Linked DNA regions of Homo sapiens. The protein of the gene in region 2 interacts with the protein of the main gene of each other region in a pairwise test. Each region holds a gene or a part of one and is shown on either strand. Other genes may lie near its edges.

What was found.
Region 1: the proteins of MAPK8IP1 (region 2) and MAP3K7 interact in binary tests that used the Homo sapiens proteins (3 or more experiments, as listed by UniProt).

What each region holds. Positions count from the first base shown.
Region 1 is NC_000006.12:90,542,047-90,549,339, forward strand, and holds part of MAP3K7 (mitogen-activated protein kinase kinase kinase 7), read right to left. Parts: intron 6,132-7,293; coding exon 6,001-6,131; intron 5,342-6,000; coding exon 5,212-5,341; intron 2,587-5,211; coding exon 2,506-2,586; intron 1-2,505. UniProt on the Homo sapiens protein: Serine/threonine kinase which acts as an essential component of the MAP kinase signal transduction pathway. Plays an important role in the cascades of cellular responses evoked by changes in the environment.
Region 2 is NC_000011.10:45,902,594-45,907,201, reverse strand, and holds the end of MAPK8IP1 (C-Jun-amino-terminal kinase-interacting protein 1), read right to left. Parts: coding exon 4,018-4,608; intron 3,838-4,017; coding exon 3,762-3,837; intron 3,214-3,761; coding exon 3,041-3,213; intron 2,748-3,040; coding exon 2,638-2,747; intron 2,485-2,637; coding exon 2,368-2,484; intron 2,232-2,367; coding exon 2,161-2,231; intron 2,052-2,160; coding exon 1,953-2,051; intron 1,554-1,952; coding exon 1,481-1,553; 3' UTR 737-1,480; downstream 1-736. Other genes in the region: FREY1 (protein Frey 1), read left to right, coding at 1-57, 260-333, 512-633. UniProt on the Homo sapiens protein: The JNK-interacting protein (JIP) group of scaffold proteins selectively mediates JNK signaling by aggregating specific components of the MAPK cascade to form a functional JNK signaling module. Required for JNK activation in response to excitotoxic stress.

The DNA.
Region 1 (7,293 bases), on a different chromosome or scaffold from region 2:
AAACAGTTTGAATATATCAAGAAGTATTTGCTAATACCATAAAGCTTGTGGGAAATCCACTTAGAACAAAACAATTTCTAGAAAGTATTAAGAAATTTTGGAAATTAAGTATCACCCTTCTTTACAATTAAAATGTCATGTAGGAAATTTGAGATATTCCCAAAGGATGGGCGGTATTTTTATATTTAATTTAAAAACATTACCTATGAGCACATTCATGATTGGCTTTTATGTCCACTAGTGTCAATTCTACAGCTTGTATTCTTCTATTAAAGAAAGTGCACCTGAGTAAGTTAATGTTTGATATCTGAGGGGGGAAAAGCCTAAAAAGAATATTTAATAAAAGGTATTACTGAATAATATTTTCATATGAATAGCACTGCTGCTCTGGCAATTAAGAGAATTAAGGTTACCTGATTCCATAAAGGCCCAATGTCATAAAAGAGGATCTCCCTGGCTGAAGAGCTCTCCTTAATGTGAACACTAAGAGAAAGCAAGAAGAAATTACTCTAGCTTCTCTGACTTAAACAAAAGAACAAAAAATGGATGTGACTTGGAGTCAGAAGATCTGGGTTGGGGTCCTGGCTATATGATTCTGGAAAAACCACTAAACATCATCAGATCTAAGTTCTTCGTCTGTTAAACAGCTATAATTTCATCCGATAACCTAGTTGTAAGATTGTATAAAGGTAAAATAAGATGTACTTTAAGCTACTTTGTAGGGCACAAAGAACATCTAATCAGGGGTTTTCAGCCTCAGCACTGCTGCCATTTTGGGCTGGATCATTCTTTGTTGGAGAAGACTGCCTGGTACACATCAGGATGTTTAGCAGCATCCCTGGTCTCTGCCCACTAGATGCCAGTAGTACCTGACAGTTATAAACTATTATTCTTTCCTTATTTTTCCCTCCCCCATTATCTTGTATAGCGTGGGCTACGCTGCCATATATAAATTTATTCTTAATGCTTAGTCATAAGATTACACTGCCATCTGTCTAAATTTTCCTGATTCCCTCAAACATTTAAGGGAAGCACAGTTCAGCGGTATGTAAGTTTAAATGCTTCCACCTCTTTAAAGTACGTCCCTTATACACAGTACCTTTCCGCATGGAGGTAAACTGATCTCCATGTAAAATGATCTCTTTGTTAATTTCTGAAGCAGTCCAGATTCAATAAATAAAAATTACCATGTGAAAAATGGGTTAACTCTACTCTTTGAATAGCAATAGTAATGATGTTGTAAAATAAGAAACCACTTTGATAACCAGGGGAAAATTAATATAAGATAGTTTTATACAGACAAAATGGCACCTAAGAATAGTATAATTCATATTTTTGTATGCTAGTTTCTCACCAGGGGAGATGCTCAATAGGTCTGTTCATTTATTTAATAAATGTATTTATTAAACACTATGTTAATATGCTTAATATGTGAAGCACTGAGCCAGCAACTGCTGATACAATCAATAATAAGCAACAACAACAAAATAATGCACAAAGATATGGATTCTATCCTTACATAGTTTTCAGTTTAGTAGAGGAGAAAATAACCATTAGGTATTCAACTAGAATTATCAACACTGCTAAAAACACAATCACAGGCAAAGGACAGCATGCTGAAGAATTCATCCAACTCGCACTCATGAACGTGTGTGGAAAATATGTATTTCCTTATCAAGATTTTGGGTAAAGAGGTAGAGAAAAGCCTAAAGGGATAAATAAATGATAATTTTGATAATACATTAATCAATACTGAAGGTCAATATGCCATTTAAGTTTCTATTAAAAATGGTAACATATTCCTCTATGAAATGATCACCATAAGAAATAAAGCAGTTTACCAATTTTAGACACTAAAGTACCATGTGTAAGTTAGGTATAAAAACATGTAATTTATGAGATTCTCCTGATAATACACAAAAATCAGAATTGACCAACTATTTTACATGATTCTTTGGCAAGATACCCTGCAAAACAGCACATCTCATTTAGCTTTACTTTTTGTTTTCCAGGTTAAGGCAAAATGCTATTTAGCAACTCTCTTCTCTCAACTTCACATTCACTTGCTACCAACAGAAAGAGGTTAGGACAGAAAGTCTAGAGGGGACCCAAAAAGCAGTAACTGAGGAAGGAAAGGAGCCAAGGAAAATAACAAATTTTAATTAGTTGTTTCCTCTTTCTGTTGGGTGCAAAAAAGGTCTGGGTTTAGCTCATGTGCTCACTTAAAAGTAGAGAGGAAGTTGGTAGAATTCTGGGTTGGTGTTCTCCCTTCTCCAAAAAGGTTTACTTTCTCTTCTATTTTATCCTCACTTATTGTAGATCAGAGGTATCTTTTCAAGACTGCTTCAGAATAAATGTAGTTTTTCAATCTGTCTCCCTAATTACTGCATGCAAGGTATCCATTTTCATGTCTTGTAAAAATTGGAGCAAGAAGCATTTTACAAGTACCAGGGATCATTATTCCGGTTCCACAGCTATTAGACCAACTCAGGTGGTCTATGATACCTGATATGACGATCTCAGGGACATCCAGAATGTTGCCAAATGAAGCAGTTTTACGGTGGCCCCGTTTAGGCTTGGAATAGGCTGCAAAAACACATATATACAGTATACATGCAAACAACCACAAACAGTAACACGGAAAATGATTAACTACAAAAATAGACTCATTTTCAAATAGTTCATGTTAATAACATTTCATGCAGAATGGCATGCAGAACTACCTAACTTTTCATCCATGCTCAGAAAAGGCGAGATTAAAGAGCAAACAACTACCAAATACAAGATGTTTTACACACTGGTTTTAATTAGCAGAAAAAAATAAAAAGAACAGAGACAAAGCTGCAGGGTAATGAGGAAGCAAAATTTCAAATATATTCATAGAAACAGTCTACCTAAGTGAAATCACTGATCTGTGATGGGGGTGGGGGAACGAAGGAGGAGAGGAAGAAAGGCGTTAAAAAGTAAGTTGTCGTATTTGTTTTAATTACACAAACACAGGAATACATGTTCAAGTTAGGTGTTTCTTGAAGTGTGCTATAAAGTAAAATCCAATGATTAAATAATAATTATTGAATCAAAGTGTGAAATGTATATGCTTTTGTAGTCATACTTATACATATTTCTAGTACCAAATATTTATTATATTTTCCAAAGTTTAGGGTACATTCACAGTAAACACAAAGTCTGTCAAAAGGCTGGAAAGTATGACTCTTTCCAAGTAAGACAATTCATGAAAAAATTTAAATTGTGTAAAACTCAAGGGATGTACAATAGCATTTGTTCTACACTTAGGCAAAATTTTAATGTGTGTGGTTATCCTTCTAGCAAAGTCATTTCTGTAAATAATAATAAAAAACCAGTGCTTGACTAGAAATATGATACTAGCGAAGACATGAAACCATTATTATAACAATTTTCAGTTTTGAGACAGCAATTAGTATGTGGCAGATCTATCCTGAACAACATCCCTGAAGTGAAAAGGGTTCCTCAAAGCATGAGGGTATGTCCCGGTGAGTAGGGTTCATCTGACACTACAGTGAGACAACCCTGCTCCAAAGAAATACTTGTGACTCATGGAGACTCATGGGCTTGTCAGTGGCTGGTGACTTCTACTCAACTTGATAGTTTCTGAAGACCCATCTGTGGCAGACACAGCTATCTTCTGCCAGTTTCCACTCTTCCCTTCTGTTTTAGCAATAGTACTCTGATTTTATTTAGGACAGAAAAGTCATCAGATAAAAGAGGGCAGATCTCCTCTTCCCTTGGAGCTACGTGTAGCCATTCGACCATGTTACTTTGACCAATGATGTGTGGATGTTGTTAAGAGAGGCATCTGGGAATGTTCCTTCAAAGAACTTGGATGTCTATTTGCCCTGCCCCCATGTCTTCCTTCCTATTGCCTGGAATGTAGAAGTGATGAAATGGAACTTCAACAGCCATTTTGGAGCACAGGATAACTTTGAGAATGGAAGCTATACAGTAGGGATTACAGCACAGAAATAGGAGACCAGTTACTTCAAGATCACAGAGCCCACTACCTCCAGACTTGTTTATATGTGAAAAATAATGCTTATGTGTTATAGACACTGTTATTTCGGATATTCTGTTATATCTAATGGATTCTAATAGTAGCTGATAAAATCAATGATCATGATTAGTTGAAGACAAGTATAGTATGATGGTCCATCTTGACAACTTCTTTCTGAAAAGAGCTCCACACACAATGAGAATATTCTATTTAGAAAAAAACCAAATAAGTGAAAAAAAGACCTAAAAAATTGGTTAGCTAAGTTAAAAAAGATGCAAATACACATGAATATATACATTTATACACATACATAGTTAAAAGATGGGGTAAATACACAAAAATGTTAAGTGTTTATCTCTGAGTGGGGTAATTATGTAAGTTTTTTTGGCTTGTTTACATTTCCACATTTTCCACAACAGAAACGTGTTTACTTTTAAAATCAGCTCCCCCTGATCCCTGGAAAGAATCAGCAAAAAACCAAAAACGTCCAAATTAAACCAGCATTACTAAAATGAAACCTGGTCACAGAATTAGGTTGTCAGTTTACTTAAGTAACAAAACATGTAATTGTTTTTGTGCTGACCAGTTCTTCCATGATTAATAATTTTAAGAACTGAACAATGGAATTTAAATGCTAGCTTTTTCAAGATCTAATAAAATTATGATATTTTATTTTACAATTAAAAAAATTAACCACAACCAGCTTAGCTATTATTTTGTCACTGGAATGAAGAAGCAGATAGAAGGTCAAATCATACATGGATCTGGAATACATTTTTCTGTTAAATTTGAAACAAAATATTTGCTATTATTTGAGTTCAGCACAAAAATCTAGTAGTATCACTGAAAATCCCCAAAATATTCTGGTTTTGGCAGAATTTCAATTTCTCACTTAGACTTTCAACTCATGTTTGAGCAGAAAGAATTACATTTGATAAAATCTGTAAATGAGGAAGGCATACTTTCTCATCCAAATAATTTTACAAGTCATACCTTCCTTATTTGGAATTTGAGATAAATGCATAAACTATTGCTAGTAACTTAGAAAAATATATTGTAAACCTACTTCCTATTTAAAAAAAAATATAAGACACACACAAAAAACCTTTGACAACTGAAACTACCATGGCCAAAAAGGCTTATATACATTTTCACTCTTCAGACTTGTAGTTCCTTTTTACCTGTGGTTGCGGCGATCCTAGCTTCTATTTCAGACATGTCAGCACTCATCCTCTTGCCCTCAGAGGTTGGGGGCAAGCTCTCCACACTGCTCCCACGGGAGGCTCCCAAGCTTAAACGTCCAGATTCACTCTGTTAAAATTACAGGTCAATCTGAATTACTGAAGTTCTTTAGATTTAGCAATCTTAGGCAACCTAAAAGGAGGAAGATGGCAAATGGGATTCTGATAGATCCTGTTCTGCTCTGAAAGGAGAGGGAAGTTTGTACGAGAGGGAGCTACAGGGGTAAGGGAAAGCAAGCTGCAGATACTGTCTTTATGAAAAGGCAGTCACTAGAACTGGGAGCTAAAAGCCCCAATTATTCGTTAACCTAAATGCCTCAGGCAAAATGAATAAACTCACTCCTTGAAATATTTTTAAAAATCAACAATGGCAAAAATATAATAAATCTGAACAGCATGAAATGATAGACTTAGAACAACTCCTCTAACTGGGCAGCGCAGCCAAAATATACCCATTTTACATTTTTAACCATCAACCATTACATTTAGGGATTATTATAGATAGGGATTTAGAATTGGCAAAGGTAGCAATCATTAGAAGGAAAAACCATTTGGTAATAAATGGTAGGAGAATCTCATTACGTGTCTCTATTTGTAAGCTCTTTTGCATGTTTCAGGAAGAAAATTCAGGATTTATAAAATAGAAGATGGTAAATAATTAATTTCAGTTAGTATAATATTGTGACTACTGGTAAGGTTACCAGTTTTACTTGTAATAACATAACAAACCTGTTGCTTTGCCTGATTTTTCAACAATTTTGATTCTAAGCGCTTAATAGTATCATTTGTGGCAGGAACTTGCTCCATATTAGTGTCACTTTTGTTACTCGTATTTGTAGAAGCAATGTCCATGAATGAGCCTAGGAAAAGCAGAAACATTTATGACTAATGGCTGGAAATAATACAAATGCTTCACTTGGTATTATGTAACTTACATTCTTTTATAAACTAGCCAGGCAGGAACAGAAATAAAATAAGACTTTTCAAGCTAATGAAGATATCCAAACAAACCCATTTTAAGAGAAACTTAAGGATAGCACAAAAAAGGAACCAAGATGCCTAAATAGTCTTCTAATAGTCAAGAATAACTTAAGGTTTTTAACCTGAGCTAGTAGAAGAACTGAGGGCTATTAATTGAGATGCGGAAAGACTAAAGGAAGAGTGAGTTTGAAGGAAGTATCAGGAACTCAGTTTGGAAAATATTAAGTTTGAGTTTCTAGTAGATGTAAAGGAAATAGTTGGATATATGAGTATAGAGTTCAGGTATAAGATGGAAAACATTATGAGCCAACAGATGGTATATAAGGCCATAATAATGAATGAGGTTACCAAGGAAATGAGTGCAGACAGATAAGTGAAGAAGCCAAATGAGCAGGCCCTGGGCACTCCAACATTTCTAGGTTGGGGAGATGAGGAATAACCAGCAAAGAAAACTGAGAACAGACGGCCAGAGATGTAAGATGGAATCTAGGCTAGTATGGTATCTCGGAGGCCAACTGAAGAAAGTGCTGTCTGTAAGAAGGAGAAAGTAATGAATTAGGTCAAGTGCTACTGAGAGTCAAGATGAGAAATGAAAATGATTCCTTAAATGTAGTGATGTAGAGATAACTAGTGACCTTGACAAGAACAATTCTGAAGTACTGGCATAATACGTCTGAATGGAGTCAGCTCAAGAAAGAAGGGGAAAAGAGAAGCTAGTGAATGCAAATACAGACTACGTATGTTTTAGGAATGATCCAGTAGAAAGCTAAAACTGATGATGCAAGAGACAGGGGAGAATTGCTCAGAGGAGCAGATGGGATATAATGCACAGGCAGAAAGGTACACCTTTGGCCAGAAGTATGGATAGTTTAGCCAGAGTAACAGAAGAAAGCAGAGTAGATGGGCACAGATGTTGTGGAAGCTGTCTTCCGATTACTCCAATTTTCTCAGAGAAAGAGCAAACAAGATCAGCTGAGAGTGAGGAGTGGCGAGGAGGTGTTTGAAGTCTGAGGAGAGGCTACAGTATAAAATTAAGACATA
Region 2 (4,608 bases):
CAGCCTCTTCCTCCACCTCATCCTGGCAGTGGCACTGCTTCGCTCCCAGCCTCTGAGGTGACTCCTGGGGCACAGAGGGCAGGGCACTTGGGCCGGATGGTGGAGGTGCTGCCCCTCCCCTCTCTGGAGTGGGGCTGGCCCTGGTACCCTGGGCGTTCGAGGGCTTGCCAAGTGCCCCCACACTGAGCCATCCCCCCATTCACAAGGAGGTGGCGGTGGCCTTCTGGGCCAGGGCTGAGCACCCCGACATCTCCCACAGGTCTCAGCGGTCTGTTCCTGAGGCATTTTCCGCCCCCCTGGAACTCTCGCAGCCACTTTCCGGCCTGGTGGATGGTAGTATCTCTCTTGTCCCCTTCCCCTACCCATCCCTGACAGTGGAGACGCCCCTAAGAGGTGCCCCAAGTCCAGCCTTCAGGGGCTTGTCATCCCAAACCACATCTGTTCAAGGGTGACTTCAGTTCCATCAGAGCCAGCTGCCCCCTACCACCCATGCCCTCTTTTCTCTCTTTAGACTATGGCATCCTCCCCAAGCACCCAAGGCCGCGAGGGCCTCGACCCCTCCTGTCTAGGGCCCAGCAGCGCAAGCGGGACGGGCCCGACCTTGCCGAGTATTACTATGATGCACACCTATGACCCAAGGCCCTCATAAAGATACCATGTGTGACAAAGGCTTGGCTTTCCTGGGCTGGGAGCGAGACGGGGACGGGAGGGGCCCATGCAGATACATCCACTGCAGTCCAGACAGGAAATGGCACTTTAATAGTTGGGGCCAGGGTGACAGGACCAAGATGGGGCTGGCCTGTGTCAGTCAGGAAGCCTCCCTCTTCTGCTGGGACAGGGCCTTGCGGCAGCTCCTCCTCCCCGCCTGAGGTCCTAGGCCTGCCACAGGCCAGCATGCCGGTGAGGTCAGTGGCAGGAGCCACCCAGAAGCCCCGCAGATGACGGAGCTGAGAACAGGGACTTCACCTCCACGTGTTGCCATTTCCTCACTGGAAAGTCCTTGGGAGGTGGCTGGGCTCAGCCTGAGCTCAGGGCTCTTCGGTGGGGGTTGGGGCAGGGGCAGGGCGGGCACTTGCAGGTGGCACAGGCTTCATCAAGGCAGGACACGGGCTTCATCAAGGCAGGAGCCACAGCGCCCGAGCCCTGGCAGGGGAGGTAAGGCCCAGGATGGGGCAGGGCCGTGTGCTCCTGGAACGGACATCCTTCTCTGCCAGAGACCTGCTCCCCAAGCCCTGTCCCTCCCAATCCCCAGGCAGCCCACTCTGCCCTCCATAGATGAATCTAATCCCATATATTACAATAAACTGCATTTGCCTCTCCCCATTGCCCCACCCTCCCCTACCCTGGGCCAGCGGCCCCCACTTCCTTGTCCTCTGGCGGTGGCAGGTGCCCCTCCTCAAGCAGTGCCACATCCTGTCAGCAGCCAGCTGTCCTGGCACTGGCCTGAGGGCTGGGGGACGCAGAGGGCGGGGCTGCACAGCTACTCCAGGTAGATATCTTCTGTGGGGCAGGTGTACTCCACAAACTGCTTGTAGAACTGCTGGAATGCTCTCCTAGAAGCCAGGGGACACACAGATGGCTCAGATCGCCACTGGCAAGGGAGGAACAGGATCCCGACCCAGGGTTTTCCCGCTGGAGCCTTGGGGCCCAAGTGCAGCTCTGGTTCCTCTGGCTGGGGCCACTTGGCTCTGTTCTCTACAGAATTGCCATCGCGTTTCCCAGTAAGATGTCAGTTGAAGACATGGCCCAACAGCTACCAAGCTTGGAAGCTGCTCCTCAGGCTCACCCTGCCGCGCCACCCTCCCTCCAGGCCACCCGCACTGGGGTCCGGAGATAGTTCTCCAGAGCTGCGGGGGAAACCGAGGGGCAAAGCTGAGCGCCAGGAAGCAGCCCCAGGGCCTGGGATTGGGCGTGCTCCCTCGGGCTGGGTGCTCAGCAGGGTGTACACGTACCCCACGGACTCTGCCAGGGCTTTGGTGGAGTCTTCAGACACAAAGACGTGGCAGGCAAACCGGTGGTCGGCGGGGTGCTTGGTGATGAACCCAAAGTACCTGCAGGGACAGGTCTGTCTGTGCTGGGACGGGGGCTCGGCCCACACCCACCCACCTCAAGGCTGCAGACCACCCGTGCCTCCTCCACTGCCATCCCACCCCCACTTACTTGTTGTTCTTTGGATGATATCCGCAGAAAGAGATGTTTTTTAACTGGAAAAAGTGGCTACATTTATTCCCCTACAGGAGGGAGAAAAGAAGCAAGAGGGCGGTCACCTGGCCTGCAGTGAGGGTGACAGGAGATGGCCTCTTCATCACAAGTCTTGGGGGAGAGCTTGGGGCCATGGAAGGAAGGGGCTGGGTTGGAAGAAGTCACCTTGGCCTCCTGGGAGTCATCGGCCTTGACGCCTATCTTCACACCCCGCACGCTGATCTCCAGGACACAGCTGGAGGGCGGGTTAAAGTGCACGGTGAGCCGGCGGGTGGTGGCAATCTACAGGTGACAAATGGAGCCACGTCAGCTGCTGTCTGTTCCTCTGCTGATCCCTCCTGTCCCAGGGCCTGAGCCCTTTACTGCCTCTAGACACCTGCGTCCCTCTGCCCCAGGGACCCATCCAAGGGAGGAGAAGGGAGAGGGCTCAGGTACCTTTTGCATAGCAGCACAGAGGACGTCATTGCCCTTGTGATAGGGAACCTGGACTGAGCCCAGGAACTTCACCCGGAACTGGTCCACCCAGTCACTGTTTTTGGCCAGGGCTGGAAAGCAAGCGTGAATTGAGGAGGGGCAGAAAGAGCAGGAGGGAGCTGAGCAGCCAAGTGAAGGAGGGTGGGTGAGGCACGGGGAATGGCAGAGCCCACAGAGGCTGCCACAATCCCTGGCTGCCCAACTTGGCCGGGCCTCACTTTGCTTGATCGTGAAAAGGACCTAAAATCACTTCCACTCAGCCCCCCACCTGGCTGGCTGAGATCTGGAGTACACGTTCACCTAGCAGCAAGTTGGGGCAGACAGATGTGGTGGCTGGGGGCACAGGCCAGGGAGGGAACACTACCTGCCATGTGCTCGGGCTCCTTGGTGACCTCGATGGCGTAATAGGCAGGAAAGACACCCCGGGCACCAGTGCGCATGTTGTAGGCCTCGTACCAGTAGTCTTCAGCCTGGAGCTCCACTAGCAGAGGGTCATCCACTTCCAGCTCAAGTTCGTCTTCGTGTCGAGGCACAAACCTGTCCCCAGCAAGGACAGGTGAGAAATTCGGCACCAAGGCCTGTCCAGCCAGGCCTACTCTGGGGTCTGGGAGCCACAGCAGCATCGTTATTTCAGTAAACATTTGCAAAAGCATCCTGTGTGCCTGTTGCAGTACTAACCCCAGGGGAGAGCAAGGTCAAGCAGACATGCATCTGCCATCGAGGAAACACAGGCCAAGGGAGGGTGTGGGCAGGGCCCCCTCTAAAATGGAGAGGCTGTGGGAAGCGCAGGCTTTTGTCTAGAGAAGGGTCAGGTGGGGTGTGGGCAGGCATCCTCCTGGTCACCCTCCTGGGTGCCCTGCCCCTGGCCAGACTAGGTGCACAGTTCTGGGATCCCTCACTGTAGCCATCCTCTTTGTCACCATACTCTGAGTCCCTAGAGAGTGGACACTGTCCTCCCAGGGCTGAGTGGATAAATGAAGGCTGATGGCAGGGGTTAGGCTGAGGCCATGTAGGGGTGACAAGTAGAGGGTGGTGTGTGGCCCAAACTGCTGCCTGGCTAGGCCCAGCCAGCCCATGGCTCTCACCTGAATATGGCCCGGTGGGTCTGCTCCTGCTCCTCCCCGTTGATGATGCAGGAGAACAGCCCGAAGGACTCAGCACCTGCAGGTGAGGTGGTGTGGCTGGATGGGGGGTCGCAGCTCTGATCCAGGTTTAGCGGGGCAGGTAGAAGCCTCAGTCCTAACCAGATGGGGCCTGGGGTCGCCTCCCAGAACACTTCGCATTTTGGCTCTGCCCCCGCTAGGGACCCCCCCACCCCACTGCTTCCCCTTGCTGACTCACTGGAGGAGCGGGAGCGGCCACTCATGAAGACGTTCAGGAATTTCTTGGAGAAATGGACGTCGGGTTCATCAGGCGTGGAGTCCTCGGAGAGGCAGGCAGGGGGCTGGGGCCGCGGGGCCTCCTCATATTCCTCTCCGATGGCCGACTCATAGGGCGAGGAGACGGAGGCACAGTTGTCATAGACGGTGGCAGAGTCACTCTCGTCACTGTAGTCTCCGAAGCACGGCCGCAGGCTCACCAGCTCCAGCTGTGCATGCTCATCTACCACCAGCGTGTACTTGACAGAGTCATAGGACAGGGCGCTGGTGTCCGAGCTCAGAGAGGCCCGTGGAGGTGGCGGCGGCTCCCCCAGGCTCCCCCGCCACCCTCCGCCTGGGGGCTCAGCCCGCTCTGGGGACGACAGGCAGTCGAAGCCCTCTTCCTCTTCACTGATGGAGGGGTGCGGCCGCCCTGCCGTGGAGGGGTAGGCGGCAGGGTCTGGATCGGAGCTGACTGACATCCGGCTCTCAGTGGGCGGCAGGAAGGCGGAGGTGGGCTCTGCAGCGTCTGGGGGCCTCTGCACTGGGGTCAGGTAGATCTCCTCAGTGGCCT